Linked DNA regions of Homo sapiens: all the other regions are linked to region 3. Evidence: fine-mapped expression QTL. A gene starts in region 3. Each other region holds a variant in brackets. All regions are shown on one strand. Distances are from middle to middle.

Region 1 (10,599 bases), 79 kb after region 3:
CTGTAAAATGGATATGATAATATATCAGCCTTGAATGGTTGCTGTGACGATTAAATGAATAGGGTGTGTATGGCTCTTAGAATAGTGCCAGGTACATAGTTAAGCACTGTACAAGTGTTTGTTGCCATTATTACTGTCATTATTATTGCTATCAGTATTCCAAGGTTGGGTCAGTCTCTTTTCCTAGTGTTCATTTATTTGTTTACTGACACGTCTCTTCCGTACCTGTCTCCCCCCAGCCCCCTTCAAGGATTTAAAGAAAAATGTTACTAATAGTACTTCATAGGTGACTAGGCTGAATGATTATCTTATTTTTTATTTTTGGGATCAAATTTTTCTCCAATACTGTACTTTTAAAATTGTAATTTTATGAGGACATAAATGTTCTCTAGAAGGAAGAGCTTAGGATTTCAAATCACAAGACTTGCGTTCAAACCCTGACTCTGTCTGGTGATATGATTTTGGTTGTTCTTTATTCTCTGGGCCTCACTTTTCTCATTTACTAAGTGGAGGTAATAATCCCTGCTTTGGGGATTTGGTATGGGAATTAAATGAAATCATGTGTAAATATCTGGTACATAGTAGGCATTCAAAAATGTTCAATATATCAGTTTGAAAAGAAAAAACCAGGATTTTGTTTTAATAGCAACTGCTTTTTATATTAATGAATTCAACTAGCTTCATTAAACTGTTCATTACAGGTATGTGTCAATGCAATTAGATACCTTTGCTTTTGCAGCATTTTGATAGCAGTGGAGATCCCCACATTCTCATATCCAGAGGCAGTAAAATCTTATTCTTTTTAAACAGAGTTTAAAAAGAGGCATTCTTTTTAAACAGAGTTTAAAAAGAGGCATTCTTTTTAAACAGAGTTTAAAAAGAGGCATTCTTTTTAAACAGAGTTTAAAAAGAGGCATTCTTTTTAAACAGAGTTTAAAAAGAGGCATTCTTTTTAAACAGAGTTTAAAAAGAGGCATTCTTTTTAAACAGAGTTAAACATGAAAACATAGTAAGTGGTTTTAGTGTCCTTCACCTTCTAAGAAGATGGTCATTAGGTGGTAGTTAAGACCCAGTCTGCCCTCAGGGAGCATACACAGTCATTTGTGCTATCTGTGGAGGATTGGTTCCAGGACGCACAAACAGCCCCACACCCCCACCCCTGCAGAAACCAAAATCCACAATGCTCAAGTTCCTTATATAAAGTGGCATAGTATTTGCATATAACCTACACACATCCTCCCTATACTTTAAATCATCTCTAGATTACTTATAATACCTAGTTCAATATGAACGCCATGTAAATAATTATTACACTACACTGTTTAGAATAATAAGAAAAAAAATTGGGACATATTCAATATAGACACAATCATTTATGTCTTAAGTATTTTTGATCCATGGTTGATTAAATCTGTGGATGCTGAACCCACAGCATCAGAGAGCCAACTAGTCTGGAGAGGATGGCAGACCCTAGCCGACTGAGGTGCTGTGTGGGAGGTGTAGCAGTAGAAATAATCCTGCTCCACCCTTGAGGGATGCAGACTGCTCAGGAAGACTTGCACAAGACGACTTCCTCACTGAGCCTTGAGAGATTAGTAGGCGTTTGCCCAGTGAAAGACAAAGAGAATGTGTACAAAAAGGTTTGTAAGCTTGAGAGAGTCTGGGACCCATTTTGGGAACTGTAATTAATTTGTTTTGGCAGAGACTTTTGTAGCAAACTGGAATTTGAACTAATTGGTCTGATTCCAGAGCCTGTTCTTTTAACCTCTGGCTGTTGAGTTGTTTCACTGGCCAACTGGCCTATACCAGCACCAAAAGTGAATATGAGAGAATGGCAGGAGATAAGGCTGCATGCATGGGTGAGTGCTAGATCATGACCACGTTAAGAATTTTGGACTTTATTCTGTAGACTGTAGTGAGTCATTGAAAGATTTTAGGCAGAGGAATATTGTCATCACATGCACATTTCAGAAAGATAATTGGCTGGGCACAGTGGCTCACACCTGTAATCCCAGCACTTTGGGAGGCTGAGGCAGGTGGATGGCTTGAGGTCAGAAGTTTGAGACAAGCCTGGCCAACATGGTGAAACCCCGTCTCTACTAAAAATACAAAAATTAGCCAGGTATGGTAGCATGTGCCTGTAGTCCCAGCTACTCGGGAGGCTGAGGCGGGAGAATCGTTTGAACCAGAGAGGCAGAGGTTTCAGTGAGCGGAGATCATGCCACTGCACTCCAGCCTGAGTCACAGAGCGAGACCCTGTCTCAAAAAAAAAAAGATAATTGTAGGAGATTTTCTATAAAGGACTAGAAAGTTATGAGAGCAAGGCCTGGAAGGAATAGGAGATGACGGATTGAGAGACATTTATACAGGTGAGTAGTTCTTACTTAAGAGTGGCCACACATGAAGAGGTAAAGGAAAGTGAGAAGGTTGGAATGACTCCCAGAGTTTCAGGGAACTAGATAGGTCTTGGTAGTAATCATTGATATGTATAAGAGAGAGGCTGCAAGGAGAACATCTTTTTTGTTGTTGTTTTTTGAGGGAGGGAGTGGATTCAGTTTCTGAATATGTTGAAGTTTGACACAACCTTCAGAAATCCAAGTTGAGATATTTTTCAGTCGAGAGGAGGATGTGGGTATTTATTAGTTGATAGTTTGGCAACAGTTTAATTGCTGTTTACCCAGGGAGGGTACGGTGTGACAAGAATACAGAGTGACAAGAGTAGAATCCTGAAGAATGTCAACATACGTGAGCTAGAGTAAGAGGAGCCCATAAAGAATGCTGAGGAACAGTGGCCATTGACGGGGGAGGGCAGGAGGAGGTTACGACAGCGATGAATACAGGACAGTGTTTAGTAAGGGGTCAGGAGCGCCTGGTGCCTCAGAGAAATCACAAAAGGGCAGCATCGTTTCATTTGTGATCACATTTCTTCACATGAAATGCCTTTGGTTACTGAAGAGTTCCAGAAACTGCAAACTAAAACTTTCCATACTTGAAAGGCCTCTAGAATTTCTGTGTAAACTTTTACTATCTTGATTAGTTTGTTTCATAAAAGCCTTTTGGAATCCAGTTGTAAAGGGAATGAGAGAAATAGAAAACCACCACTAGGGAAGCCCCACAGTAATAATTTTTGCAGGCAAGGTCCACAATAGATGCTAAAATCAATGGGCAAAAATTTGAGGAGAAACTGTATTTATTTGGTCTCTAAGTATCTCCCCCAAGATATTTGTCCATTACAAAGAGAAACATAGTGGCTTTGCAATAATCTAGCAGATGCCACCTTAACCAAGTGTTCAAGATGAACAGCACCAGTAAAAAGACATATCTATACCCCCTGTGTCTTCAGTAGAAAGATACAACATCATTTCTGTGGTATTCTTGCAAAAAAATGCCTAACCTTAATCTCATCATAAAACAGCATACAAATCCACATTGTGAGACACTCTACCAAATAAATGACCAGTACTCATCAAGTGTCAAAGTAATGATAAAACAAGGACTGAGGAACTGTCACAGATTGCAGGAGACTAAGGAGACATCACAGCAAGGTGTAATGTGGGGTCTT[A/G]GAAGCCCAAAATTATTACAGAACAAAAAGTTTTTAATGTAAGTTCATGTGTGTTGAATTGGTTTTGGTTTTGTCATCTGTACTCACCTGGCTCATCTTGAGACCATAAATGTGAGGATGTGGTCAGAATCAGAGAGTAGTCTTTACTCATAGCAATAGCGTAAGAACTAACATCTCCAGAAATCCCAGGTCAGGCACTGCTAATCAGTTTACATGCGGAGGCAGAAAGAGCATAAGCTCTGGAGCCAAACTGCCTAGGTTTGAAAGCTGACTTTTCCATTTCCCGGCCTTGAGACTTTGAACAAATTACTTTACATCTCTGTGCTTCAATTTCCTCATCTGTGAAAGGAGTATAATCATAGAAGTGACAATTTTATAGGGTGGTTATGCAGACTAAATGAGCTAATTCATGTGATGTAACATCCCCAGTGTTACATAGTAAGTAGCAAACTGGGATTTGAACTAATTGGTCTGATTCCAGAGCCTGTTCTTCTAATCTCTGGATCTTGAGTTGTTTCACTGGCAGGACCAACCCTATACAGGCACCAGAATGACATCTTGGCCACCTTAGCATCCTTTCCTAAGGGGTTAAACCAAGTGGCCCCCCAGGCTAGATGAGAATATTATAAACAACTTTCTTGAGTTAAACTTCAAGAACAGACAGTGTATGCCAGCTGTCATCACTGATACTAGGTCCCACCATTGAGCAATTTTTGCTCCTTGTTTGTGATAGGGTTGTATATGTAAGACTTCCAGAAATGTTGTAGCAAAGATTAACATTACCTTCTGGAAACAGTTTAAATAATAACACTTCATTAGTTTAAATGGTACAGCCTGGTCAGACTTGCTAATTGGATGCTAGAAAATAACGTTTTTTAAAAAAACAAATATTTTGGTTTTTGGAAATACAGTAATTATAATTATTGATTGTCAGTATTCTACTCAGCATTACATATAAGTGGATTTAGTTATGATTTAATCAGAAATCATAATGTAAATGGATCAAACTCCCAAGCCTTTAATAATATGACGTCTTACTGTGTTGGTCTGTTCTTCCACAACAAAATAATATTTGTCTTTTCTTAGTATGGTTGGTAAAAGATGATTTAATATTAAAACATACACCCATTTGCAGTGGCACCGAGACTAGATGCTAAGTACAGATTACTAAATGGTCTTTAATCTGATTTCTTCCTAAAGCCTGTATTTCATCATGTAGTTAATAGTTATTAACTATATTGTATTAAATGTAAAGATATTCTACAGAGCAGTACCATCTAATAAAAATATTAATATGTATTATATATGCAATTTTAAATGTTCTAGTAGCGACATTGAAAAAGTAAAAAGAAAAAGATGAACTTAATTTTAGTGACATTTCATTTAACCCAATATATAAAAATATTATTTCAACAATTTACTATTTTAAGAATTATTAGTGATATGTATTTTTTTTGTCCCAAGTCTTCAGAATCTCGTTTGTATATTATACTTAATTACAGTACATCTCAATTCAGACTAGCCCCATTTCAAATGCACAGTAACCACGTGTGGCTAGTAGCTACTGTATTGCATAACACAACTGTAGGGTACAGTTCATAGTCTTTGTCCAGAAAGTGAATTAAAGCCGTCTCTGGACACAGCCAAGAATAGTAATCATACTTTCAGATGGACACTGAAGTTTAGTGAGGCCTAAGGACATTAAAAGATATATTTAATTAACAGTATTTTTGGTTTATATTTAAATAAAAAGGTTATATAAATATTTATGCTCATACATTGACATAACTTTTGGGAAGGCATTTTGACTCAGTCAAGTTTACATATACATACCTTTCAACTCAGCAATTTCACATCTAAGAGTTATGTATTGGCCAGGCTCAGTGGCTTATGCTTGTAATTCCAGCACTTTGGGAGACTGAGGTGGGAGGATCACTTGAATTTAGGAATTTGAGACCAGCCTGGACAACATAGCAAGACCCTCTCTCTACCAAAAAAAAAAATTTAAAAATTAGCCAGGCATGGTGGCGCACACCTCTAGTCCCAGCTCCTTGGTGGTGGTCGGGGCTGGGAGGCAGAGGTGGGGGGATGGCTTGAGCCTGGGAGGTCAAGGCTGTAGTGAGCCGTGATCGCACACTGCACTCCAGCCTGAGCAACAAAGCAAGACCCTATCTCAAAAAAACAAAACATCACCAACAAAAAAACAAGGATACATAGAGGCCTTTTTTATAAAAAGTGAAGAATTAGACTGGGCATGGTGGCTCACGCCTGTAATCCGAGCACTTTTGGAGGCCAACACAGGTGGATCACTCAAGTCCAGGAGTTCTAGACCAGCCTGGGCAACATAGTGAAACCCCATCTCTACTAAAAATACACATATTAGCTGGGCATGGTGGTACACTCCTGTAGTTCCAGCTACTCAGGAGGCTGAGGTGAGAGGATGGCCTGAACCTGCGAGTCAGAGGTTGCAGTGAGCCGAGATAGCACCACTCCATTCCAGCCTGGGTGACAGTGAGACCCTGTCTCAACAACAACAACAGCAACAAAAAGTGAAGAATTAGAAGCAATGTATGTGTTCAAAAATATGAAAATAGGGTACTTCTGTTCCTACGGTTATATGCAGCTATTTATAAATTGTTTATGGGACATTGCTTATAAGGCTAGGTGAGAAAAGAATTCATTCAAAATTGTGTGAATATATATATATATAAGGATCATTATGTGAAACAAACGTAACAACAATTGTCTATAGGTAGAAGGATTGTGTGTGGGATTTTTTGTTTGTTTGTTTTTTAGATAAGCTCATACTCTGTAGTGAGCCATGATCACACCACTGCACTCCAGCCTGAGCTACAAAGCCCAGACCGGAGGGCTCACTGCAGTCTCAACCTCCTAGGCTTAAGCAATCCTTCCACCTCAGCCTCCCGAGTAGCTGGGACTACAGGCACATGCCACCGTGCCTGGCTAGTTTTCTTACTTTTTTATTTTACTTATTTATTTTTTTGAGACAGAGTCTTGCTCTGTCACCCAGGCTGGAGTGCAGTGGCCTGATCTCGGCTCACTGCACCCTCTGCCTCCTGAGTTCAAGCAATTCTCCTCCCTCAGCCTCCCGAGTAGCTGGGATTACAGGCACACACCACCACGCCCGGCTAATTTTTGTATTTTTAGTAGAGAGAGGGTTTTGCCGTGTTAGCAGGCCAGGCTGGTCTTAAACTCCTGACCTCAGGTGATCCACCCGCCTCAGGCTTCTAAAGTGTTGGGATTACAGGCGTGAGCCACTGCACCCAGCCAGTTTTTTTACTTTTTGGTTTTTGTTTGTTTTATTTTTGAAACAAAATCTCTCTGTCGCCCAGGCTGGAGTGCAGTGACATAATCTCGATTCACTGCATCCTCCATCTCCCGGGTTCAAGGGTTTCTCCTGCCTCAGCCTCCCTATTTACTGGGATTACAGGCATGTGCCACCACACCTGGCTAATTTTTGTATTTTTAGTAGAGATGGGGTTTCAACATGTTGGCCAGGCTGGTCTTGAACTCCTGACCTCAGGTGATCTGCCCCCCCTCAGCCTCCCAAAGTGCTGGGATTACAGGTGTGAGCCACCGTGCCTGGCCAGTTGTTTTTACTTTTTGTAGAGACGGGGTCTTGCTATGTTGCCCAGGCTGGTCTTGAACTCCTGGGCTCAGGTGATCTTCTGCCTGGCCTCTCAAAGTGCTCAGGTTATAGGCATGAGCCACTGCGCCAGGCCAACTGTATGTGTTTTCTGTGTGGTTTGGTTTTTTTTCAATTTTCTGTATTTTATACCTTTTGTATTACTTTTTTTCTGGGTTGGTGTGGGGGTATAGACAGGGTCTTACTATGTTGTCCAGGCTAGTTTTGAACTCCTAGTCTCAAGCAATCCTTCTGCCTCAGCCTCCCCAAGTGCTGAGATTACAGGCATGAGCCACCACACCCTGCCTCTATTACTTGTATAATAGGAAAAATCTTAACCAGTATTATTCTTGTAAAATTCATTTGTTGAGATAAAGAATTACCTTTGGGAGGCTGAGCTGTGGGTGATATAATAAATAATTAAATTATTTGATATGTGTAAAAATGTTCCTAAAACTTTAAAATATTATGTATTAAATACATGAAAATACCACATTTTGTTTTATGGATAGTGTTTTGCCCTAGTAGAGTTTTTTGGGTTAGAATTTTATTTTATGTATATAGAGAGGGCACATTATAATGAGTAGAAAAGGATACCCCTTTGAATTATCTTTGGTATGATTTGGTCTGTATAAGGTCATATATTTTCTAGAGCATCTCAAACACATCATACAAAATATTTTTTTTTCCATTTGGTGGGAAATGTAGGTGATATAACTTAAACTTCCATAGTACCTAGACTGAAGATCTAGGAATCAAACTTACTGTGAATTCAGTTGTGTTTCTCCATTTAAAGGTGGGGGAAATGAAAGACCCCCTGGATCTAGTGCATGGAGATGACGTGGAATTGCAGACCCCTTTTCTGCCTTGGGGAACCAGTGGCAGTGTGTGTGGTGTTGGTGAGGTGTTGCATTCAGATACTGTACCACTACCTGTGCTGCTGCCAGTAGATGGCTTTTGTGACATCTATTAAAATGAAAAATGCTTAAGATATATGTAGAGGAAGAAAATGAGGTAGTCAATTCCTCATTGTCTTTAGTCTGGAATAATGTTTAAGGGTTGTATATTGCTCAAAAGCACAAGTGTACCTGTTCTTTTTTGGGGCTGTACTATAAATGAATCTGTGTTGAACTGTCATTTACAGTATACTGTTATCAGACTTTTCTCCTGTAGCATTAGGGAAAAAGGGAAAAATGTACAGTCAGCCCTACATATTTGTGAGTTCCACATCAGTGGATTCAACCAACCACAGATTGAAAATATTCAGGCATGGGGAAAGGAATGTCTGTACCTGTGAACAAGTGCAGACTTTTTTCTCGTCATTATTCCCTGAACAATACATTGTACAACTATTTACGTAGCATTTACATTGCATTAAGTATTTTAAGTAATCTAGAGATGAATTAAGTATATGGGAGCATGTGTGTAGATTACATGCAAATACTATGCCATTTTATATAAGGAACTTGAGCATCCGTGGATTTTTGTATCCATAGAGAGTCCTGGAACCATTCCTCCACAGATACCATGGGATGACTGTAGTTGGTCATCCCAATGACAGTGGTAAGTGCCTATGAATTTTTCCCTATCCCACTTTGTACCCAGATGTTCCAGTGATCAGTTCTGGAGTTTGTTAACTCACTGAATGTGTTTCCTCTCCTAGGTTAATAGTTACTAATGTTGCTGCCTGTTGCTTCCTGCTTTATTTAGGTTTCATGTCCTTAGCAAGCTACTGAGTTTCATGGCACCTATTGACCATACTACAATGAATGATGATGCCAGGTGAGTAATAGATTAATTATGTGTCTCAAATGGCTTCATGACAGCCTGATATTGACCTGCTCTACAGCCTTCGCCCTCTCCATTTCTTCTTATCAGTTAACCATTTGTCATTGGCATCGCAGTAAGGGTCACATCTCTTCACCCTCATAATTACTATAAAACCAAACCAAAAACTTGCATAAATTTCAGTGCTGCCTTTGGTGGTTTGTTTGTTTTTCCTGTTTTGTTTTGAACTTTAGCCCAGCGCCCTGGGACATGTGAGCTCTCTAGGACAGGGCAGGTGGCCCATGTTCTTGCCGTTTGTACTTGGGGCTGTTGTGCATATGCTTTCCTTTTGAAAGTGGCTCTAGTGAGTGCTCTGGAGATGTGCATATGTTGTATTTGTTGGGGATTGTGAGTGTTTTTACAAAAGATGTATATGCTTATTTTATAAAGCTGAAACGAGAGAAATACAGAAAAAAAGTGTATGCTCATAATATTACCGTTCAGGGATAACCTTTTTAAAATAATAGTTTCTTCTGTATCTATTAATTGGCATTCTATAATGAAGAGCTTCCTCTTCTCCCTCATTTATTTACCATTTATTTATTCATTTATATCAATATGGACTCATGTTTTCCTATTTTATTCAATGAGTTATGTTTATTTTGATATTAAAATTGTCCCAGATAGTGGAAGTGCCGTCAAACTGGCTTGTGTCCTTCAAAGTTGTCTTCAGTCAATCTTTGAGTACTTCCTTACTTTCTGGCACAAGAAGATGTTTAATGCTCATCTTAGACTTTCCATCTTCCAGCCCTGAAATCAGTCTTTCTTGAAGGAGCCCTGGCTCTGTTTAGTGGATTGTGGTATTTAGAAACCAAGATCTAGGTACTAGGGGTGCTCCTTGTTAGTGAGTATTGCTATTTCTAGACCTGTCAGCAGAGACGGGAAGTGTATGTATATACACTCACACCTACACAGAAGACAGCCACTTTTAACATCTTACAGCATTTCATTTCAGTTTTTGTAAGTTCCCTTTCAGTATTTTCCTGTTTTTCTTTTTTATATTGAAATTATATTCAGGAAATGTTTTATATACTGAGAGCATTTTCATGTCGTTAAAATAATTAAAATTTTTCAATGACGAAATAATATTGTTATAATATTTATTTAGCCATTCACTGATTGTTGGACATTTAAATGGCTTTTAATTGTCATCATTGTAAATAATGCTATGAGAAGCATTTTTAAACATATTTACCAAGTGAAATTATTGGTCATAACATAGGCACAGGTGGTTTTTGCCAGTTTTATCCCTCAAACTACATATAAACTTTTTATTTTAGAGTATTTTGTTTGCTACCAAATGCCATCAGATTTTCCCCTCCTTGTCTGAAAGTATGAGATCTGCAAATTTTGACAAATACTATTATTATTTTTTATTTGGTTTATTCAGTACTTTGAGCACAAAACAGCCTATGGATGGTTCTGAGTACATTTGTGTCTGGCTTTGTGACCACATCTGCTATCCTGTGCTTTGCAAGTGAATGTCTAGATATGGCCATGGTTTTTTGTTCATTTCTGGATCCAGTCTGTTTAAAAATTGCAGAGTAAAGTGAGTGCATCTTAG
Region 2 (10,599 bases), 41 kb after region 3:
TGGAACAACCACATGAAGATTTTCTGGCAGTCACTGGAAATGTGAGAGTTTGATTATAGGAGAGGTGTCTGAGTACTTTCAACACATAAATGGTGACTCTCAGTGTCTAGTTAGCCCCTTGAGTAGGGTTATTCTAATAGAGAAGGTAAGAATTCTGTTGTCAGAGGACCAGTTTTGTTTTTTGCGGGGAGATTTTGGAGACAGCGTCTCGCTCTGTTGCCCAGGCTGGAGTGTAGTGGCATAATTGTAGTTCACTGTAACTTCAAACTCCTGGGCTCCAGCAATCCTCCCATCTCAGCCTCCCAAGTAGTTGGGACTATAGTGCGCACCATCAAAACCGGCTAGTTTTTAAAAAAAATTTTGTAGAGCTGGGGTCTTACTGTGTTCAGCAGGCTGGACTCAAACTCCTGTGCCCAAGCAATCATCCCGTCCTGGCCTCCCACAGTTTTTTTTTTTTTTTTTTGAGACAGAGTCTCACTCTGTCGCCCGGGCTGGAGTAAAGTGGCACAGTCTCAGCTCACTGCAACCTCTGCCTCCCAGGTTCAAGCAATTCTCCTGCCTCAGCCTCCTGAGTAGCTGGGATTACAGGTGCACACCACCGTGCGCGGCTAATTTTTATACTTTTAGTACAGACGGGGTTTCGCCATGTTGGCCAGGCTGGTCTCGATCTCCTGACCTTAGATGATCCACCCGCCTCCGCCTCCCAAAGTGCTGGGATTACAGGCATGAGCCACTGCACCTGGCCTCCAAAGTTCTGAGATTATAGGCATAAGCACTGCCCCTGGCTGAGGATGAGGTTTGTTCAGTGTGTGTGGTTTTTTTTGGAGACAGGGTCTCACCTTCACTCTATTGCTCAGGCTGGAGTGCCGTGGAGTGATCACTGCTCACCGCAGCCTCAGCCTCCTGGGCTCAAGCCATCCTCCCACCTCAGGGCCCCTCCACCAAGTAGCTGGAACTACAGGTACGCACCACCATGCCTGGCTAAATTTTTTTTTTTTTTTTTTTGGTTAGAGCCGGGGTCTCACTGTGTTGCTGAGGCTGGTCTTGAAACTCCTGGACTCAAGCAGTCCTCCCCGAGGACCAGTTTTTTTTGTTTTGTTTTTTCCAGACAGAATCTTGCTCTGTCGTCCAGGCCAGAGTGCAGTGGCATGATCTTGACTCACTGCAACCTCCGCCTCCTGGGTTTAAGCAATTCTCCAGCCTCAGCCTCCCAAGTAGCTGGGATTACAGCCACCCACCACCACCCTCAGCTAATTTTTTTGTATTTTTTTTTTAGTAGAGATGGGGTTTCACCATGTTGGCTAGGCTGGTCTCAAACTCCTGACCTTGTGATCCACCCGTCTCGGCCTCCCAAAGTGTTGGGATTACAGGCGTGAGCCACAGCGCCCGGCCGACCAGTTTTTATTCTGAAAGTTTTTATCCGTAGACTATATACATCATCTTGACCAGCTCTATTACATATGCATCTTATTGGCTCCAAGGAGAACCAGGTGAGAATATATTCTCAATGCCCAAATTTTTAATATACAATTCAATACTGCAAATAGAAAGTGATTCATTAGCTTGGGTTTTCGTATGTGAACAGGAACTTTTCCATAAGGATATGTGTTGAGAGATGGAGTGAAGGATGTGGCAGCTCAAACCAGAGGCACATGAGATCTCCTGGGGGCAAGGTGGAAGGTGTTGGTGGTGGGGATGCCTAGACAAAGTCCTACTCTTTAGGAGAAGAGAAGGAAGTGCTCAAGGAGCTGACTGATAAGGAATAGTCCAGGAGGTCAGCAGGTAACCTGTAGGAAGATACCTAAGAAACTTAACACCAACGGAACAAATTAATGGTTATAATGAGAGGCCGGGGAGGAGTTTGTCAAGCTTAATACATTTAAGAGCTGACAATGTATTGGACTCTTACTCTTTGCAGACACTTTTCTAAGCACCTTACATGCATGATCTTGCTTGTTCCTCACAACAATCCTGTGAGGTAGGCAACGTTGTTATTTCCATTTGGGAATATTTCAGAGAGTATTTAGTTCCTGTGTGTATCCTGTGCCTCCCCTTCACTCCCCACAGCCAGAACTGCTCAGGAGTCATGAGTTATAGGCATCACCTACTTTGGAGAATTGTAGATAATTAATTGTCCTTTCTCTGTCCTTTATTTCCCAGGTCACAAGGCACTTAAAGCATTGTTGAGGTCATTGGTAGGTCTTCAGGAAGAGTTGCTTTTCCAGTACCCAGACACTAGATATCTAGTAGATGGGACAAAGCCCAATGCGGGAAGGTAAGAGAACAGAATCATGGAGTTGCTTATTTTCTTTTCATTTGGATAGTTTCCCATCATTTATGAAAGAAAAGCTAAGTTCTCTTCAGGCAGATATTAATGTTAGTAAAATAGAGTCTCATATTTACCTGATGGTCAGGATGGCACATAAGTTGGTGATTAGATTTTAGATTTTTATATTTAGTTGTACCTGATGTGCTTTGCGGTCTTAGACAAAGGCTTGCCTTCTCTTTAGATCTATTGGAATTAGAAGATAAAAGCACTTTGTTTTTTAGAGATGGGGTCTTACACTGTCATCCAGGCTGGAGTGCAGTGATGTGATCGCAGCTCACTGCAGCCTCAAACTCCTGGGCTTAAGCGGTCCTCCTGCTTCAGCCTCCCAAATAGCTGGGACTGCAGGCACTTGCCACCATGCCTGGCTATTTTTTTTTTTTTTTTTTGTAGAGACAGGGTCTTGCTGTGTTTCCCTATCTGGTCTCAAACTCCTGGGCTCGAGCCATCCTTCCACCTCAGCCTCCCAAAGTGCTGGAATTATAAGCATGGGCCACTTCACCTGGCCAAAAGCACATTTTTAAAATATTAATGCTTAATTAATGTTTATGAAACATTCTGTGCCCATACCATATATTGGAATCACTGGTCACAGCCATCTCCTTTGAATAAAAGCTGTTATTATGAAAGATGGAAAAATTTCAGAAAACAGCAAAATAATTATTTTTTCCCCCTGAAATTATTACATTTGATGAAGATTTTTCCCCCTTTTGTTTACACCTGCTGTATATACCTGCTTGCTTTTTTTCCCTCGAGCTTATCTTTTGTTTCACTTTTTATCTACTGAACTAGTTGGGAGGACAAAAAGGAAACTCACATTTATTGAGCACCTATTATATGTTGAGGTCAGTAATCCAGTGAGTGCAACTGGCAGATAGTTGGAGGTTGTATTACATTGCCATGGCAGTTGCATAGATGGCACTGCAGGTTAGTTAGTGCTAATTGTTGCCTACCGCTTTGAGTTTTCTTCACATTCAGCTTCTCTTGTATTTGGTTCAACTAATATTATTCATCTTTCCTTAACAGTTGGTTACAGAGAGACACATTTCCCTTATTGATTTGAGGATTAAGGTCGTAGAAATATGGTTATGTGTTTAATTTTTAAATACTGTCCTATAATACTGCAGGCCTGGTTCATACACATTTCTAATAATTCTTTTAAAACCTCATTTATTTTTATGGTTTACTTACCTTTTAAAAAATATTTTGAAACTAGTTCTTTTTATATTTGTTTTAAAAGTTACATGAGGCTGGGTGTGGTGGCTCATGCCCTGTAATCCCAGCACTTTGGGAGGCCGAGGCAGGTGGATCACTGGAGGCCAGGAGTTTGAAACCAGCTTGGCCAACATAGTGAAACACCATCTTTACTAAAAATATGAAAAAAATTAGTCGGGCATGGTTGCACACACCTGTAATCCCAGCTACCCATGAGGCTGAGGCATGAGAATTGCTTGAACCCAGAAGTGGAGGTTGCAGTGAGCCAAGATCGCGCCACTGCACTCCAGCCTGGGCAACAGAGCAAGACTGTCTCAAAAAAAAAAGTTACACGAGTTTTTGATTGATCTCATGAATATTCTTCTCAAAGAGCAAAAGCCATCCTTATATCTTTGGTGTTATTTTGAATGGAGACAGAACAGGTAAGGCCTAAATATTCTCAGTCCTTTATGTGAGCCTAGTTTTTAAAATCTAAGTAATGTTTGTTTACACTGGACATAATATTCTTACTGCTTTTCTAGTGAGGAGATTTCTAGTGAAGATGATGAGCTGGTAGAAGAGAAGAAGCAGCAACGAAGAAGGGTCCCTGCAAAGAGGAAGCTGGAGATGGAGGACTATCCCAGCTTCATGGCAAAGCGCTTTGCCGACTTTACAGTCTACAGGAACCGCACACTTCAGAAATGGCACGATAAGACCAAACTGGCTTCTGGAAAACTGGGGAAGGCAAGTGTGTGTATGCGCGCATGTATGTGTAAGATAGGTTGTGGCAACTTGAAGAAGTTTTAAGAAATTGGAACTACAGCTCATTTATATGGATGTTGTCACGATGTAATGGTAATCATTCATTTCTATAGCAAAATCTACTGAACTTCTGGCACTGGGGTTTATACGATTCAGACTTGGGATTTTAACTTTATTAGAAAGAATGTTTTATTCTTAAAATTGAGGCCTTGTAAGTGTTCAAGTGCTGAAAATCCAAATACTTTAAAGGAGTGGATTTCAAAGCAATAATTATTAAAGTATCAGAAGCTAATCTCCGTGTGTAGAAAAATGATATGACCTGCTTAAGACTAACTTTTTTTTTTTAAGAACAATTATAGCCACTCACAAACTCAGTCCTTTACAGAAAGTCCCTCCTGAAAAGATGATTTTCTATCTCTCTGCTGACACAGAAAGATAGAGAAACCAATGTAGCTTGCCTTCAGCACTGATTTTCTGCATTATCTGACACTGCTTAATGTTGTTGCAGGGTTTTGGTGCCTTTGAACGCTCAATCTTGACTCAGATCGACCATATTCTGATGGACAAAGAGAGATTACTTCGAAGGACACAGACCAAGCGCTC[T/C]GTCTATCGAGTTCTTGGCAAACCTGAGCCAGCAGCTCAGCCTGTCCCAGAGAGTTTGCCAGGGGAACCGGTAAGAACTCTGTAATGCAGAGTGATTATGGGGAATAGTTTCTATGAGGCTTATTAGCTGAAAAACTTGTAGCTATTACCTGTTTATATAAGAGGTTAGTGAGAGAAAGGAAAGCAACACTACTTTACTGGATTACTGAGAGAAACTTGAGTGTATGTGAGAGGAGAGAGTTTTTAAAAATGGGGCTTCTATTAACTCCTGTGTGTCATCTTCTCTTAATTTTGAGTTTGATGCAGGAGTCTGGTAGTAGAAGCATTCATAATCCAATTTTCAAAATTCAGTTTTAAAGCTACTTCTGTAGAAATGTCAGTATTGAAACAAGTGTGTACTTTAGGCTCAACGTTTGCCATTTAGGTACTTTAGAAAGGGTGCAGAAGTGGAATAGTCAAATTCTTTTGTTTAAAGGAAACATTTAAAATTTTTTAATTATGGAAGAAATATATACTTAATCCTTTTTTAGTTTATAGCAACTTAAAATGAAAAGCAAAATTCTCTACTCTGAAAATTTCACTCCTGAGGTGAAATTTTTTTATTTTTTTTGTCAATTGCCTGTTAACGTAACTCCTGAGGTGAAATTTTCAGTATTTAATAGTTGTAACAAGTTTACAGTTAATAATTAATAGTTGTAACAAGTTTTTGGGTCTTTTCTATTTGTGTAACTATATATGTGTGCAAATAACAAATATATATGTATAAATATGGTTGCCTTTTTTACTAAATGAGAGACATTTATGTAGTATAAATATGTAAAATATTACAACTGTATTTAAAGTCTTGCAACTTTTAAAATCTAATAAGTCCTAGATACTCTTTCCATTTCATTACCTAGAGAGCTACCTCATTTTTCCTAATGACCTCAAAGTATTCCATTGTATGGATATGCACTATCATTTATGCAAACAATGGATATTATGTTGTCTCCAGTTTCAGAAACACTGCTACAGGAAAGATTCCTGTACATGTATTATGTGTTCGTATAAATATATGGGTAGATTTCTTGAAGTGGAAGTGTTAAAGAAAATACACCAAATTCTGATAGATGTTGCCAAATTGCCTCCAAAAAGGCTGCATTAATTTCAGTCGTAGAGGTGAAAAATGGTATCTTCTAATTCTAATTTACACATATTTAATTTGAATGAGGGTAAACATATTTTCATATGATTATTTATGGGTTTTTTTGGTCAACTGCCTGTTAATGTTTTTGCCTGTTTTCATATTGGACTGTTTTGTTTTTTAATTTTAAGAACTTTTTATATCTTAAGGAAAACAGTGCTTTGACTGTTCTACATATTATTTATAGTAGCTACATTAGTTAGATAGCCTTGTTGGGATTCACTCTTTTCTTACTCATTGTTAACATAGGAGATCCTTCCTCAAGCCCCTGCTAATGCTCATCTGAAGGACTTGGATGAAGAAATCTTTGATGATGATGACTTTTACCACCAGGTGAGACTTTTACACTCTCTTGTTACAAATCATGTTTTAGCATTTTAAAGCAGCTTATAGAATTCTCTGAACAAAGAAGTTGCTTATTTTGGAAGGATAGAGTCAGACAGTGAGTTAGAACTCCCGCGTTCAAAATTGACTTACAGTGTCATTGTGGATTTGTTGCTTTTCTTCTATTTTATGTTTTCCTTTTGAAATGAAAACAGCTATAGCTACTTTGTTGTTGCTTGAGTGTAAATTAGCTGTAAAACAGTTTCAGGTTTTTTTCTCTGAGTCAAGTGGGTTCTTTCTGAGCCATTTTTGATGATGGAGGATTTGTTAAGTTATTTGGTTTCTTGTCTCATTACTATTAGAATGGGCCGTGGAGCTGGAGGGCTGGGATCCCAGAGTTCCTGAATTGCGCTACTGATCCTATTATCTGTTAAATCTTGTTCTTAATGTCTTTTTGTGCCTGTCGAAGTCAGTTAAGTATGTATTGAGAATGTCTGCAACTGTTGATTATAATAAGAGCATAGTGCTTTTGAAGACAGAGAGAATTGGTAGAAGTTGAAATATAGTCCAGTTCTCAATATGTTTTCAGACTCCCCCACTTCTTTCCCTGACATTACTCTCTGCTGGCATGCTGTTCTTTTTAATGATGCCAGAGACTGTTAAGATAGACTAAACATTTGGGCTGTTCTAGAGAACTGAAATAACTTCCTGTATTCCTGAGTCTCTTGATAAGTTATACTTTTTTTTTTTTTTTTGAGATGGAGTCTCGCTCTGTCACCCAGGCTGGAGTGCAGTGGCGCAATCTCGGCTCACTGCAAGCTCTGCCTTCTGGGTTCACGCCATTCTCCTGCCTCAGCCTCCCGAGTAGCTGGGACTACAGGCGCCCGCCACCAGGCCTGGCTAATTTTTTGTATTTTTAGTAGAGACGGGGTTTCACCGTGTTAGCCAGGAGGGTCTCAATTTCCTGACCTCGTGATCTCCCTGCCTCAGCCTCCCAAAGTGCTGGGATTACAGGCTTGAGCCACTGCACCCGGCCAGACAAATTATACTTCTTAATAGAGTGTGTGTTTGGCTGTACCCTTTCTAGCTTAGTGGAGAATAGAGGAAGCTGTTCAGCAGTGATATACCAGTTATTGTTGAGCCATTGTTTATCAAGATAATTTTTTTCTCTGTCAAATTTTTAATGTGCTAGCTTTAGCCAAGTAATTTGCGACTGCTTGTTGAGGGTTTAGCCATGACTGCTGTACTGTGTATATGGATATGAAGAAGAACTTCTTAGGAAAATTACATGTAAAGTCAATATAGAACAAGTGATTTTATATTGGGGATACCTCTGGTCTTGCCCTAAAAAGAGAAAGAGACTTTCTATTAATTTTTTTTATTCATTCTATAATGTTTGATAAAATTATTGCCATAAGTAAGTCTTAAAAGTAATGACTAGAGGGTATAGGAAAAAAAGATTGGTGTGGCTGCAGCTGTTCCCTGTCAGAGGTCCTGATTCTTTTTTCCTCTTCTCTTATTATATTCATTTGTCAGAAGAGTAAGGAACTCTATTTTGTTCTAGAGTGTCTAAGGAAGTACCTGATATGGGATATTAATGCTGTATAATTGTGTGAGATCACGGGAGACAATCAAAAATGTTCCAGTCCTCATTAATTGAAGTGTACATTGTTCGATGAAAAGTGCATCATAAATTAAATAGGCTTAATAAAATAAAGTGAAATTACTGGGGAGAAGTTGCCTCTGTTGGCAATCCTTAGTCTGAATTTTTTTTTTTTTTTTTTGCCTGGAGGTCTGTTTAAAAAGAAATAGCATTACTTGATTGGCCCTTCATCCCAATTAATAATTTTAACTTCGATAAATTCTGATTTCAGAGTTATGACTAGTCACATCTTAGCTTTTCCCCTTGCTGGTTAATTGGGGTGCTGGGGTTAATCTAAATTAAAACTTAAACTAATAGAGGTCAGCAAGGCAGCTAAAACACCTGAGTGAAACAAATGGGGCTGCCAGGCACAACTTTATCTTGGCTGTTTCCCAAGAGGGAAGTGGCAGCAAATTGGAGTTGTTTCAGCCTTCTGTAAAGGTGAATGATGGGTGACACTTGTTAATGTACAGCATCTCCGGAAGCATTCCAGATTGCTTTGCTGCTACACCAACTGCTGCCATCCATGCACAGTCAGTAGGAACTGGACCAGTTGCCAACATCTGGCAGCACAGCAAGGAATGGGTGCAAGTCTTGAAACCCTGCAGATTCTAAATATGGTGCTTAGAACTGTGCAGGTTTTAATCACTTACCACTCTTTGGCAGCGGGCTACGACAGCTTATCCTAGCCTCGTACATCACATTCCGACATCTGCTGAGCTGCAAGGCAGCTGCACATTCATTTTCTTTTCTTGCCTTTTCTCTTTGCTTCCCATTCCCCTTCTTCTTCCCACTCCCCTCACCCTTCAGTTTTCCTCCCCCTCCCAAATATGCTTCTTGGGAGAGATGATCTGTAAAGATTACTGCTTCATTGTGTGCAAGTAATTGTGGTGATGCCAGGCCCTTGACAGACACAAGGTAGCACCTGTTCTGCTGACCTGGTTAATTTCTTCTGTTGAGTGGGATTTGCCAGAGATTGGAGCTGAAGCCAATTCAGTGATAAGGCTAAAGAAAATGGCTGTATGTTTTCTGTCACTTCCCAATTAAATTGGCTTCATAAAGTGCTTTCCTTTATTTGTCAGAGTAGTAAGCCTGAGCTAAGTGTTGCATTCAGAAGTGGTTCAATATATTACAATGGGCCTGTGAGTTTTCATTTGTGTGGTTTTTTTTAACATGGTCATATGGAAGAGCTGGGTGGTGAATATAATACATTCCCCCTTTTTTAAAACCATACTTGAAGCCAGACTCTTTGGGTTCATGTTTTGTAAGGAAGAGATTATAGCCACATTGAATTTTAATGTTCCATTGTAAGGGTTTAAAGGCTTACTTGGTTAATTCAGGTGTCTTGAAGCTGTGTGAATGCCCTAACTACTGAGAATGATGTGTGGGCTCAGAACACTCCCCCTCTACACACACATACTCATTCACACTTTCATTCTTTGTTTCTTAATGGGCTTTAAGTTACCATATCTTTCAAAATATACTTGTATTATTTAATAAAGGTACATGTATATATGTATGTATATGTGTGTGTACATACATACATATGTATGTGTGTGGGCCATAGAAGATAGTATCTGATATCATAAATAATCTTATCATTTTTAGAGCTGAAAAGAACCTTAGAAGAAACTGACACCCTGAGAAGTTAAGTAACCGTCTGACATCATATAGTAAATGGCAACACTGGTAGTTAATGTCAGGACTTCTTAGACCAAGTCTTGCTCTGTCCATACCTTTATTTCTTAAATATTTCATTCTTGAGCCATAAAGAGATTTCACTGTAGTATTACAGTTTTCACTTTGTAAATAAATAAGCTTTATTTTCATAGAACCAGAAAAAGTATTTTGTGTTAGAAAGTAATTTTTTTCCTTAGAAGGCAAATGATTTATTGAGCTTTTGTTACTTAAACAATTCTAATGAAAAAATTAGCTTTATAGTTTTGTTACCGGTTTGTTTGGAAACTGGAATTGCTGAAAGCATGAAGTATAGCCAATGGTGAAGGTTTTATGAGAGAAACTGTTCATCTGCTTCAGAAAAGCATTGCAGGATTTTACTTCCAAACAGAATTACTTTACAGTTGGCCTATTTCTTGTCAAAGCGCATTCCTAAAGGCAGTTTCACAAAACATGAAGGTTGTAAATGACCACGAAGGATGAGCCATTCAGAAATATTTTCAGTGTCTGTTTGTTATGTCATGATCCTATCTGCTACTTCATAACATTCAGTTCTCTTCAGATCTGTTGTCTGTATCACCATTTAAGGCTTTTGTTTTGTTTTATTTTTTTAAACCATCAGATGATCTTTGACTTGATAAGCCTAAGTTTTTAAAGAATCAGGGAAGGACCAGGATTTGCTAAACACTAGTGGCGTGCCAGTCCCTGGACTAAGTAGATAGGTACTTGGCATGTGTCTTGATTTAATCCTCACAAGATCCTCGTATTGTGATGTAACTGCACTTAGCAATAAGCTATATAAAGTGGCTGGTTTTCTTCTTTTCATATCCCAGATCGCAAACTAGTTTCTTGTCACTTCATGCGATATTTTGTTCTGAAAGGACTAAT
Region 3 (10,599 bases):
ATATATATATTTTTTGTCTATCTGGATTTTTGGTTTTTGTTTTTGCCAAAATTGCAAAATTCTAAATGTAAAGCCCTCCGTATCAACTCTTCTACCTTCGCAAAACTACACATACACACATACACACGTACACGGACACACTCGGTAAGATGGTCTCCAGCCAGACCGCTCAGTAAAATGACTTGAACATCAGCTGTACAAGAAAAGTATTCTACCTTCACACACAAAAAGTTAAAAAAAAAAAAAAAGACTATTGAACTAAAAACAGTCAACTGTTTACGTATAATGTTAAATTCAGGAGTTCAGTGTTTTACTAATATATCCTGTTTTGAAACCTCTTGTTCGAAAACAAAATGTTTTGAGCAATCAACCAAAATTGTTCCTTTTCTTTTCCTGTAGATGTTCTGACAGATTTGCAGGGCTTTCGGCTCACTGTGCTAGTATGTAAAAAGGTGTTGTTTACACGAGGCAAAGAGAAAACATGCTATTCAGACAGTTGCCAAATAGAATAATTATAGCACAAATACTGTAAAGGTGCCTGGCACCAGCAACCTGAGAAAGTGTTAAAAAAAAAAAAAAAAAAGTGTTACAAGATTTAAAAAAAAACATCTTTGCTAATTTTTTTGTCCTGTTGAACATTCATGGAATTGTTAATATGACTTATATAGACCCACACAGGTTTTATTTTTGTGTCTTTAAAATAAAAGTCCAAAATATTTAAATTTTATGGTCAAATATGCAGTCAACAGCTGCTACTTTTTCTTTATATATTAAATTTCTCATATGTCTTTTATTGTTCTAATAAACCTAAGCTTGTGTGACCTCCAGTGCATATTAGACCATTCACTGTATGAAAGAAAACATGTTGAATAAATTTGTGAGTTTTTAATAAAAATAGAAAATCTGATGTTTAGATAATTGGTGTGTTATTTGATGTTTTCAAAGGGGAACCCTGATGGGGAGCTGAATGGGTCCTCAGAAGCCAGGTGGAAAAGAGAGGCAGGATTGGGATGATATATCTGTTTTTGCCTTGGCTATGGCTGAAACCTTTTGCTAATGCCAGCCAAGCTTTTCTCTGTGGCTTCCTGCTGTTATTAGCTACAGATTTACATCCTGTGGATTTAACTGATACCGTTGAAGAGATGTTTGCTGATAAGTTAATATAGAATTTGAAATAGAAATCAAATCCATGGCTAAAAAATGAGTGGTCCAGGTCTGTGATTAGGCATAAGATCCAAGGCATTCCCTCTTTCACTCTCCCTGCACATGCAAAACTGGGCTTGTATCAGATACTTGTAATACATAGTTAGAGGTGGTCCTTTTCAGTTTCATTTCATTTCCTATAGATAATCCGGCTTTCTAATTTGGTAGTTTGAAAGATAATGTAAAGGCTTTCTAATTTGGTGGTTTGAAAGATAATGTAAAATGAATGTATAGTACAGCTAGAAATGAAATACTTTAATCCCTTTCACAGAACTGATATGAAATTGTTGTTTTATAGTATTTGTTACCTTTGAAGTTCCCCAGAAGGAAAACTATTTTGCCTGGCACAAGATACATATTAAGTTTCTCTGAAAGATGAACAAAAATAACTAATATCAAAATCAAATTTCAACTCAAAAGGTTCTAAAAGTAGCTCGATTCTTTCCAGTCCTTCATTAGACTTGGAAGAAATTTGAATATTTTATCTACTATGAAATATTCTTGTGGATGTGTGTGTGTTTCAGTATCAGATGCTATTAGAGTTCCAGGATTTCTTTTCCATATCACCTAGATTTCACTCTGGATTATTTATTTCCTTATTTAAAAAGTCAAAGGTTTGACATTAAATGGTATATAATTTCCAGTGCTGTTTTCAAATTTTGTTAAGACACAGCCAAGTTTATCTTTCCTGCAGAGAAGGCTTTAAAATAAGCAATATTTCACTGCATCCATATGATGGCTTATCTAATGGGGGAGGAGGCTATCCGGGAGGAATCTGGCAGTGTTCTTTCAGAAATAAAAATGTATGAAATACAGAGGAGACTTTTGAAACTCCCAGCCTCTGCATGCAGCACATTTCTTTATTTGCTTTATATGCAATCACTGGATCGGCTTGTTTTTACCTTTTTAGCATTTATACACATTAAATCCTAGCTAACTTATTCATTATAGCCTCTACTCCCTAGCCCCCTTTAAAGACATTCATTTAAATGAACTGCGCTCACTGGGAAGCTGCATTTTCCTATCAAGGCTGCTGAATTATTTAGCAGCTTTATTGTGCAATCGGGGTATTTGATAAGAAGCGTTTTCGAGTTGGGCACACGATGTGGATTCGATTCTTCTAACAACGTGGTTGTGGCGCAGTCTCTCCCCTCGTCGCGGGATTCAGAATCCTGGCGAAAACCCGAACAGGTGGCAACGCTCAGCAGTCAAATTTGGAGCCGAAGGCCCCAAGGAGGAGGCCTGGAAATGTCAGGGCCTGTTCTCCTTCCCATCAGTGCTGTGCCGCCCACCTCTGGCCCCGAGGTGCGGGGACGTGCGGCACCATACCTAGGCGGAGCTCCCGCAGGAGGCGCAGCAGGAGGGAAGCGCCACTGCAGTCCCCTCTCGCCTGGGAGGGCAGCCTGGTTTCTCCCTGTGGCCATCTTAAAGCCACCACCTCTGTGCCTCTCGCCACCTGCCTTCAGGGTTCCAGCAGCAGGGAGCCACCATCTGCTCTGGCGAGGGAGCTGAAGCTCACCCACCCAACTTCTCCGGGCTGGCTGCCGCTGGTAAGCTGCTCTAGGTGAGGCACTTGGGGAAGTATTACCTGTGGAGAGCCAGGATAGGCATTGCCAGGGCTGGCACCTGAGGGTGGACAGCATCTGAAGAGAGGCAAGTGGGAACTTGGTTTTCCCAAACTCTTGAAACTCCTTGTCAAGTGAGCAGACAGTTGTTTGGGACAATTGGAAAGTGTCACCCCTTGCCCATCCTCTGCTGTGCCTAATCGCCTGCCACTTTGCAGCCCTTGGAGGGCAGGGAGAGGGATTGTGGACTGGGCGCCCCTCCGCCTTCTCTGGAGAAGGCCATTCTGTTAGGGAACTGCTCACCCTTATTCTCCTCTCCCTGTTCCTCTCATCTGCTCTCATCTCTACATCAGTCAGAGGTTGAAACTCCTCGCCACAGTCCACTCTCCATCTCCATCCCTACCCCATCAATAAGCCCTTCCCCCACCATCTCAAGACACTGGAATGCAGGTAGGGAGAGGCCCCCAGAGGGAGTATTTGAGAATTTGCTCCCCTGTCCCTTGCCTCAACTACTCTCAGTTGCATCTTAATTCCTAGAATTACTTCCTCTTCCCTCCACTCCTGGAGTCCTCTTTCTACCTTCAGTATAAGGTCAGGCAAACATTTTGGGGGGCCCTGGGATGTGTGTGACAGTAGAACGGTCTTGATTCCTTGCTAAAATGGCTTCCCAAGTCAGTAGGGACCAGGACAGAGAAGGGAGAGTAAGTAAACAGGTCTATGGCATTTTCTGCTGAGTGTTTGCCCAGCACAGCCCCCAAATTGACCAGCAGTGTCCTGTTTGCATGACAGCTTAGAGGTGGTCTCTGCAGTGACTCACCTCCCTTTCTCTTTTCTTCCTTCTCTTTACCTCAAAGGCCAGGTTTCTAAGCATTGTAAGTACCCAACATAGCAAGGGGATAGGATTGCAGGAGGTAGTTTCTTAAATGTGGGGTGGGAGAAACATTTTTGTCCTTTGAAGCCCCATGGCACCTTGTCAAGGAGCAAGGAACACACTTTTGCTTGGGAGGCCCGGACACAGGCACAAGACTGCAATTATAGAGGATAAACGAAAAACTGTTCTCTTAGGCTAAGCTCTCTTATGGATGGTAAAAAGCCGTTTTCTTCTCCTGAGTGCCCTGCCTAGCCTGGCATTCTTTTCCTTCCATGTCTGAGGGGGTTTACCCTCAGACAGGTTCTCCTTCCCCTCTGCAGCCCTGGTTGTCTTCATTCTTCAAGGGCCACTTTACAGGGACATGGAACAGGCTCCACTAAAGTGGTGTCCTCTTATTGCTCTTGGCCCTGAGGACATATGAAGATTGTGAAAGTCAGAGATCCTCTCTTCCCTTGGTTTTCATGGGAGACAGTAGAGAGCTGAGGGTTCCCCAGTTGTTCAGCTGTGGGATCCAACTGGCCCGGGCTGTACCCAAGGGGCACTGCCACAGTGCACCACTAACATCTCTTTTCTGGATCCTTTTGAGGCAGATTCTGTTTAGAGGGGTCTAGGTCTCTACAGGCAACCTCCAACAGATACCATAAGAATAGACCACTTTGTAGTCACACTTATCATCCCTTATTGCAGTTTCTGTTTACATGTTTGTCTACCCTCCTAGGCTGATTACCGTGGGGGGGAGAATCCAACTTACTTATCTTGTATCTTATCTAGCAGTGCCTGCCACATAGTGGGCAGTCAGGGAATGCTTGATGAAGGAAAGAGGATGTAAAGCGATTGTGTCTTTCCGTGTGCGGGGTGCAATTACATTTATACTATTAAGTCTTTATATTTTGAGTCTGTCCCTCTAACGGTAGACCTGTATTTTTCTGCATTTGTGCACCTGCTTAAGCTGCCTGAGCATGCCCTCATCTCTGAACAGCAAAGATAATCAATACCGAGGGGTATGCAGTGGAGTAATCCACACCCCACCCCCTTTCCCTTGCTCAGGCAAGGGTACTTAGAGACGCTACTGAAACTATCTTTAGCCACAGCGATTCCTAAGTATTCCCATTAAGAAAGACGCCAGCAGTCCGCCACACACTTACACGTGCATATCCCTGACATAGGATTCCCAAATCCTGGCCGCTGAAGGGCGGGAGGCGTGTGCCCGGCCTCAGACTACTATAAATTGCGAAATGACAAACCTGCTTTGGGTCCCAGTCTCTGCGTGCCCGAGTGCGCACCCGCGATTCGAGCAGCTTAAGCCCTACTCCCTCCTCCTTCCCAAATCAGCCACCGTGGGCCACGGCTACGCTATGCTTTATTCCTAAGCGAATCTCGCACAAATCTCGAGGCATATTTTGTACAAGGGGACACTGGCCGCGCGCATCGCAATCGCATCTCAGCGACAGAAGCGGTCACGTGCCTTGGCGCGCTTCCGCACCGCCCCTTCCCGCGCACTCGCACGCGCACGCGCACACGCGCCCATACGGCTCCAATCCCTTCAACCTTCTGCGCGCTTCCGCCTTCATGCTAGCAACGCCCGCAGTGACGCGCAGGCCCCGCCCCCTCCCGCGCGCCTCCCGGAAGTGGCCGGTCCAGAGCTGTGGGGTGGCCTCCGCGCGGTCTCTGGCGGAGTCGGGGAATCGGATCAAGGCGAGAGGATCCGGCAGGGAAGGAGCTTCGGGGCCGGGGGTTGGGCCGCACATTTACGTGCGCGAAGCGGAGTGGACCGGGAGCTGGTGACGATGGCGGGGCCGCAGCCCCTGGCGCTGCAACTGGAACAGTTGTTGAACCCGCGACCAAGCGAGGCGGACCCTGAAGCGGACCCCGAGGAAGGTGAGGCCGGACTGGGGCAGGCCACGTGCGGAGCGGTGGGCCAGGCCCTGTGGGGCAAGGGGGCGGCGTGGGAGGGGCGTGCGCGAGGCCGCCGGGCCTGCGCTCCTTCGCTTGGCGCAGAGGAACGTCGCCTCCCGCGAGGGTGGTCCCGGCCTCGGGAGGAGGGCTTCGGCTTCTTTTCACACGCACTCGAAACTTGGTGCTCGGCTGGATGGGCGGAACAGATCGAGGGCTCAGGCCGAGAGGAGCTGGTCTTCAGGTTTACTTGCTCCAGGCCTGTTGGAGGGAGCCAGAGAGTCTGCTAGCAAGTTGGAAGTTAGCTTTGAGGATGCCCTTTCTGGTATTGCGTTAGAAAGGAGGAGAAGAAAGTCGCATGTTTTTAATTCAGGTTGCCCTTCAAAACTAAGTTGGAGACTGATGGAAGGATTTTCTGGTGCTGTTTAAGTCTCTTGAAGTCTCAAGACACTTGTTCAGTGGCTGACGACTGAGACTCCTGTTCTGTAAGCTGATGTTCAGAGTCTAGCTGGGAGTAATCCCGCTTTAGACTTGAGTCGGAAGTGTGAGAAAGGGATAATAAGGAGGGATAAATGCGAGTGCTGAACCGTATCTTAGGAAGATCAGTTGAAGAAACTCGGGACTGTTTAGCCAGAATAAGCAAAGAAAACTCCCCAAAGAATGGGACAGAGTGAGGGGAGAACGTGATGACTGATTTAAGATATTGGAGCGACTGTCACACATTGAAGAGGAATTCAACTAGTTTGATAGGATCCAAGTCATAGAAATAGATCCCACTAGTAGATGCCAGGAGTCAACTTTCTGTTTAGAAACAGCAGTAAGACAGTGTTCTACTTTGGGAGAGAGTGAATTTCCTATTCCTGGAAGTTGGTGGGGATTTCGTAAAGGACGTTCAACTATGAGATAAATGGGTCGACCAGGGTTCCCGTTAAAGTTTCTGCTAACCTGGAGATTCTGTTTACTTTTCCCTCTCCCCCGACAGCCACTGCTGCCAGGGTGATTGACAGGTTTGATGAAGGGGAAGATGGGGAAGGTGATTTCCTAGTAGTGGGTAGCATTAGAAAACTGGCATCAGCCTCCCTCTTGGACACGGACAAAAGGTATTGCGGCAAAACCACCTCTAGAAAAGCATGGAATGAAGACCATTGGGAGCAGACTCTGCCAGGATCGTCTGGTGAGTAGACATTTTTGAATGGAACTCTTCTCTTCCCTAATTTTTTCAGGGTTAAAATCCTCCGGTCATCCCCCATGATCTTTGCAAGAGTAGTCTGCGGATCTTTTTTTTGAGACAGAGTTTGGCTCTTGTTGCCCAGGCTGGAGTGTGATGGCGCCATCTCGGCTCACCGCAACCTCCACCTCTGGAGTTCAAGCGAGGCTCCTGCCTCAGCCTCCCGAGTAGCTGGGATTACAGGCATGCACCACCACGCCCGGCTAATTTTGTATTTTTAGTAGAGACGGGGTTTGTCCATGTTGGTCAGGCACCCCTATCTGTTATCTTAGGAGAGACCATTGATTTGGTATTAGAAAGGGTCTTAGAGGTTACTTCATTTCACTTCATAAGGAATCTAAAGCCCAGAGTGATTAAGTTGCTATACTCCTTATGTTCGGACTAATGGCTCACCCTACAGTGGAGTGACAGAGAAGGCAGTGCATTTTGGCTACTGGAGAGGGTTATGAGCTGAAAAACCACTGTGTCTGATGAACATGTTATCCTTGAATTGTGACCCCTGACCTTTGGTTTTCCAGGACTTGCATTGAAGCACTGTGTGATATTAGTTATTTGTGAAACTCATTTTTTGCCATTCTAAAAAATCACATAATCCTTCTCTTCCCTGCAAAAGAGTTAGGAGTCTGTGCGCTTATAGTTTTAAAGAATTGTAAATTTCTCAGAGTGGAAGAAGGGGCTAGATATGGTGATTATTGGGAGAATGTCATTTGTTTTCCTTTAGAAAGGTCAGGGGTGTCATGTTGAGAATCCACAGATAATATAAAAGGAACTATCATTTAGGTTATGATATCTATGATTTAGTCCTTGATGTAGTTCTGGGAGCTCCTGATAAGCTCATTTCATATTCTTTGCCTAGAGACTGATAAAGGGACCAATCATGAGACAAATATGATAATATTTATTGAGTTCTTACCATGCGTCAGGCACTGAGTTTAGCTCTATAATTTAAGTTCTAAGAGCCTGGGACACAGTAAGTCCTCAAAAAAAAAATTATAAAATTACCTGGAATTAGACAGATTTTTATAAAAAATTATCACCATTATCACTACATGTGTCACCTAATTTAATCCTCCCAATTGCGCAGGAAGTTATTACTACTTAGCCCCATTTTACAGATAAGGAAATCGAGGGGCAAATTGGTTACATAAGTTTGCTCAAGGTCATATAGTTAGTAAGTGGAAGAAACATGATTCAAATGTAGGCTGTCTGACTCCAAGATGTACACTCTAGTAAACTCTGTATGAATGTTTCTTAATCTGAGAAATGGCGTACATTCAAAGAATTTAAATAATAATTTCTGTTTACTGTTTTGGCACTTAGTTTTTGTATTTATATTTTTGGCAGCTTTGTGTCTTAAGTTTATATATACCTTTTTAAAGAAGCGCTGAAGACCTGTCACGCTTTCCTAAAATCTTTATTTTATTGAAGAAAGTTTTTGGAAACTGGTCCCTCTATCTTAGAATCATACTTGAAACACATGGGGCTTTTATGTTCTACCATGGAACAGATTGGATAAACTGTAAAAACCTCTACATATCAGATGATACTCTAAGCATAAGTCAAACAAAGAGCCTTAACTAGCACTCTGTCTACTATAGGATCAAGTTCAGAGTCCTCATGAAAGACGAGACCTTTCCTGATTAGTCTCATCTCCCATCACTTCCTTGTGCATCCTGCACTCCAGTGCGTTTTCCCTTCATTATCTATGAGCTGTTGCCTTATGCTTCATAAGTAAAATTATAATGTCTCCTTCTCCACATGATACCATCCCCCACCTTTCCAGGAGAGTTAGGTGGTTCCATCTCCATACACTGTGTACTAATGACCTTGTAATATAATTATTGGCATGCATATCTACCACTCCCACCAGACCATGAACTCCTCCCAGCAAGTATTAAATTCTATTTGCCTTTCCTTAGCCCCTGGCTCATAATGAGTGCTTAATAAGTATTTAGTAAATAGGGCAGACGGATGTGATAGATTGTACATTTTTTCAGATCAGGTTTGGGAAAACTGGTAATTCTCTAACACCAGTTGAAATCTTACTGTTCTTCAAGGGCCAGAGCAAATGCTAGCTCTTCCTTAGAGATTAGCTTAAATTCACTTGCCCCACAGTTAAAATTTCTCACTCTTCTGGGTTATTGAAATTTTGTCAAAGCACTTCTGATGCTTCCTTGAGTTGTAATGTTGTGAGTCTGTCTTTCCCACTAGCTCCTTTTGTTAGGGTAGGACCCGTGTTCTATTCATCTTTGCTTCTCCCTTAGCATTTTGGAGATTGTAGATGTGTAATAAATATATTGTTGAATTGAGTGCAGTAAGAGATTTTCCCCCTGATGCCACAGTGCTTAAGTTGAAATGAAGTCTATGGCTTGGTATTTTCTCCAGGTAATACCCATTTTTCTCTTTCTTCCCTCTCTTCTTTGTAGATGAGGAAATATCTGATGAGGAAGGGTCTGGAGATGAAGATTCAGAGGGACTGGGTCTGGAGGAATATGATGAGGACGACCTGGGTGCTGCTGAGGAACAGGAGTGTGGTGATCACAGGGAGAGCAAGAAGAGCAGAAGCCACTCTGCAAAAACACCGGGCTTCAGTGTCCAGAGTATCAGTGACTTTGAGAAATTTACCAAGGGAATGGATGACCTTGGGAGCAGTGAGGAGGAGGAAGACGAAGAGAGTGGCATGGAAGAAGGGGATGACGCGGAAGACTCCCAAGGCGAGAGTGAGGAAGACAGGGCTGGAGATAGAAACAGTGAGGATGATGGTGTGGTGATGACCTTCTCTAGTGTCAAAGTTTCTGAGGAAGTGGAGAAAGGAAGAGCCGTGAAGAACCAGATAGGTTTGTACATGGTTTTGCTGATTGCCTGTTTTTCAAAGTATCTGCATTTGGTCTACTTTTCATTTGTTTGTTTTTGGCTATTCTCTATCTCCTGTGTCCTTTCAATTAGTTTGTGACATGCCCCACTTACCCAGAAGCCTAAAGCCCTATTCCTGTATGCTTAGCCAGCCATTTCTGCACTGATCTGCTTAGCTGGTTCTGCTCTAGTACTTCCTGCAACTGGGGAAGATTGAAGAGAAGAGTGTTTTCTCCTCTCCTTGGGTTTTAGCATTCCCACTCTGCTGTAGCAAATACTTGCTTCATGGATACTGAATTTATTTTCTCTAATAGAGAATATTTGTTTCCATGGCATTAAACTGCTAAAGCTGTGGTGCTTAGAGACTGGTGTGGTTTCCTGTTCTTCCCCACCCCTGCCACCTCACCCCCAGAATATTTTATTATTGAGGAATGGGATTCTCTTTTCTTCTTTTCAGCACTGTGGGACCAGCTCTTGGAAGGAAGGATCAAACTACAAAAAGCTCTGTTGACCACCAACCAGCTTCCTCAACCAGATGTTTTCCCATTGTTCAAGGACAAAGGTGGCCCAGAATTTTCCAGTGCCCTGAAAAATAGTAAGAATACTTATGTCCTGTTGGAATACTTAGAACCACTTTGTCAAATGAAGACAGCTTTGATTGAAGTGGACTGGGAGCTTGAGCCATGTTTATTGTGCTTTCTTCTCATCTGCCCTTGCTCTCCCCTCCCCATCCCCCTTGGCTTTCCAAGTTGCTTTTTTTTTTTTTTTTTTTTGAGACAGAGTCTCGCTCTGTTGCTGAGTCTCAAGTACAGTGGCGCGATCACAGGTTACTGCAGCCTCGTCCTCCTGGGCTCAAGCAATCCTCCCACCTCAGTGATCCTCCCACCTTAGCCTTCCGAGTAGCAGGGACCACAAGCGTGCACCACCCTGCCTGTAGAGAGGGATATTTTGTAGAGACAGGGTCTCACTGTGTTGTCCAGGCTGGT

Alleles and levels. Alleles are on the strand shown, and positions count from the first base shown. SD is a standard deviation of normalised expression in the study named. Not every link is listed here.
With allele A in place of G in region 1, the expression in substantia nigra of the gene that starts at base 5,255 in region 3 is lower (moderate effect, 0.53 SD a copy in GTEx).

The links. PIP is the estimated chance that this variant, and not a neighbour inherited with it, causes the effect.
Region 1: its variant is the best candidate, but not a certain one, in a credible set for the expression of AATF in substantia nigra (GTEx, PIP 0.88).
Region 2: its variant is the best candidate, but not a certain one, in a credible set for the expression of AATF in whole blood (INTERVAL, PIP 0.88).

What each region holds. Positions count from the first base shown.
Region 1 is chr17:37,022,696-37,033,294 of GRCh38, forward strand. AATF (apoptosis antagonizing transcription factor) reads left to right here. Exons shown (of 12, transcript NM_012138.4): 11 at 8,919-8,990. Among named protein-coding and RNA genes, the nearest start is that of MIR2909, 5.8 kb to the right of the region's middle. The variant A/G (reference allele first, on the strand shown) is at 3,563.
Region 2 is chr17:36,984,457-36,995,055 of GRCh38, forward strand. It overlaps AATF (apoptosis antagonizing transcription factor), which reads left to right. Exons shown (of 12, transcript NM_012138.4): 5 at 2,161-2,275; 6 at 4,063-4,264; 7 at 4,791-4,955; 8 at 6,318-6,401. Among named protein-coding and RNA genes, the nearest start is that of AATF, 41 kb to the left of the region's middle. The variant T/C (reference allele first, on the strand shown) is at 4,886.
Region 3 is chr17:36,943,700-36,954,298 of GRCh38, forward strand. It overlaps AATF (apoptosis antagonizing transcription factor), which reads left to right and starts at 5,255. Exons shown (of 12, transcript NM_012138.4): 1 at 5,255-5,517; 2 at 6,515-6,706; 3 at 9,187-9,597; 4 at 10,071-10,208. The coding sequence starts at 5,427. It overlaps LHX1 (LIM homeobox 1), which reads left to right. Exons shown (of 5, transcript NM_005568.5): 5 at 1-913.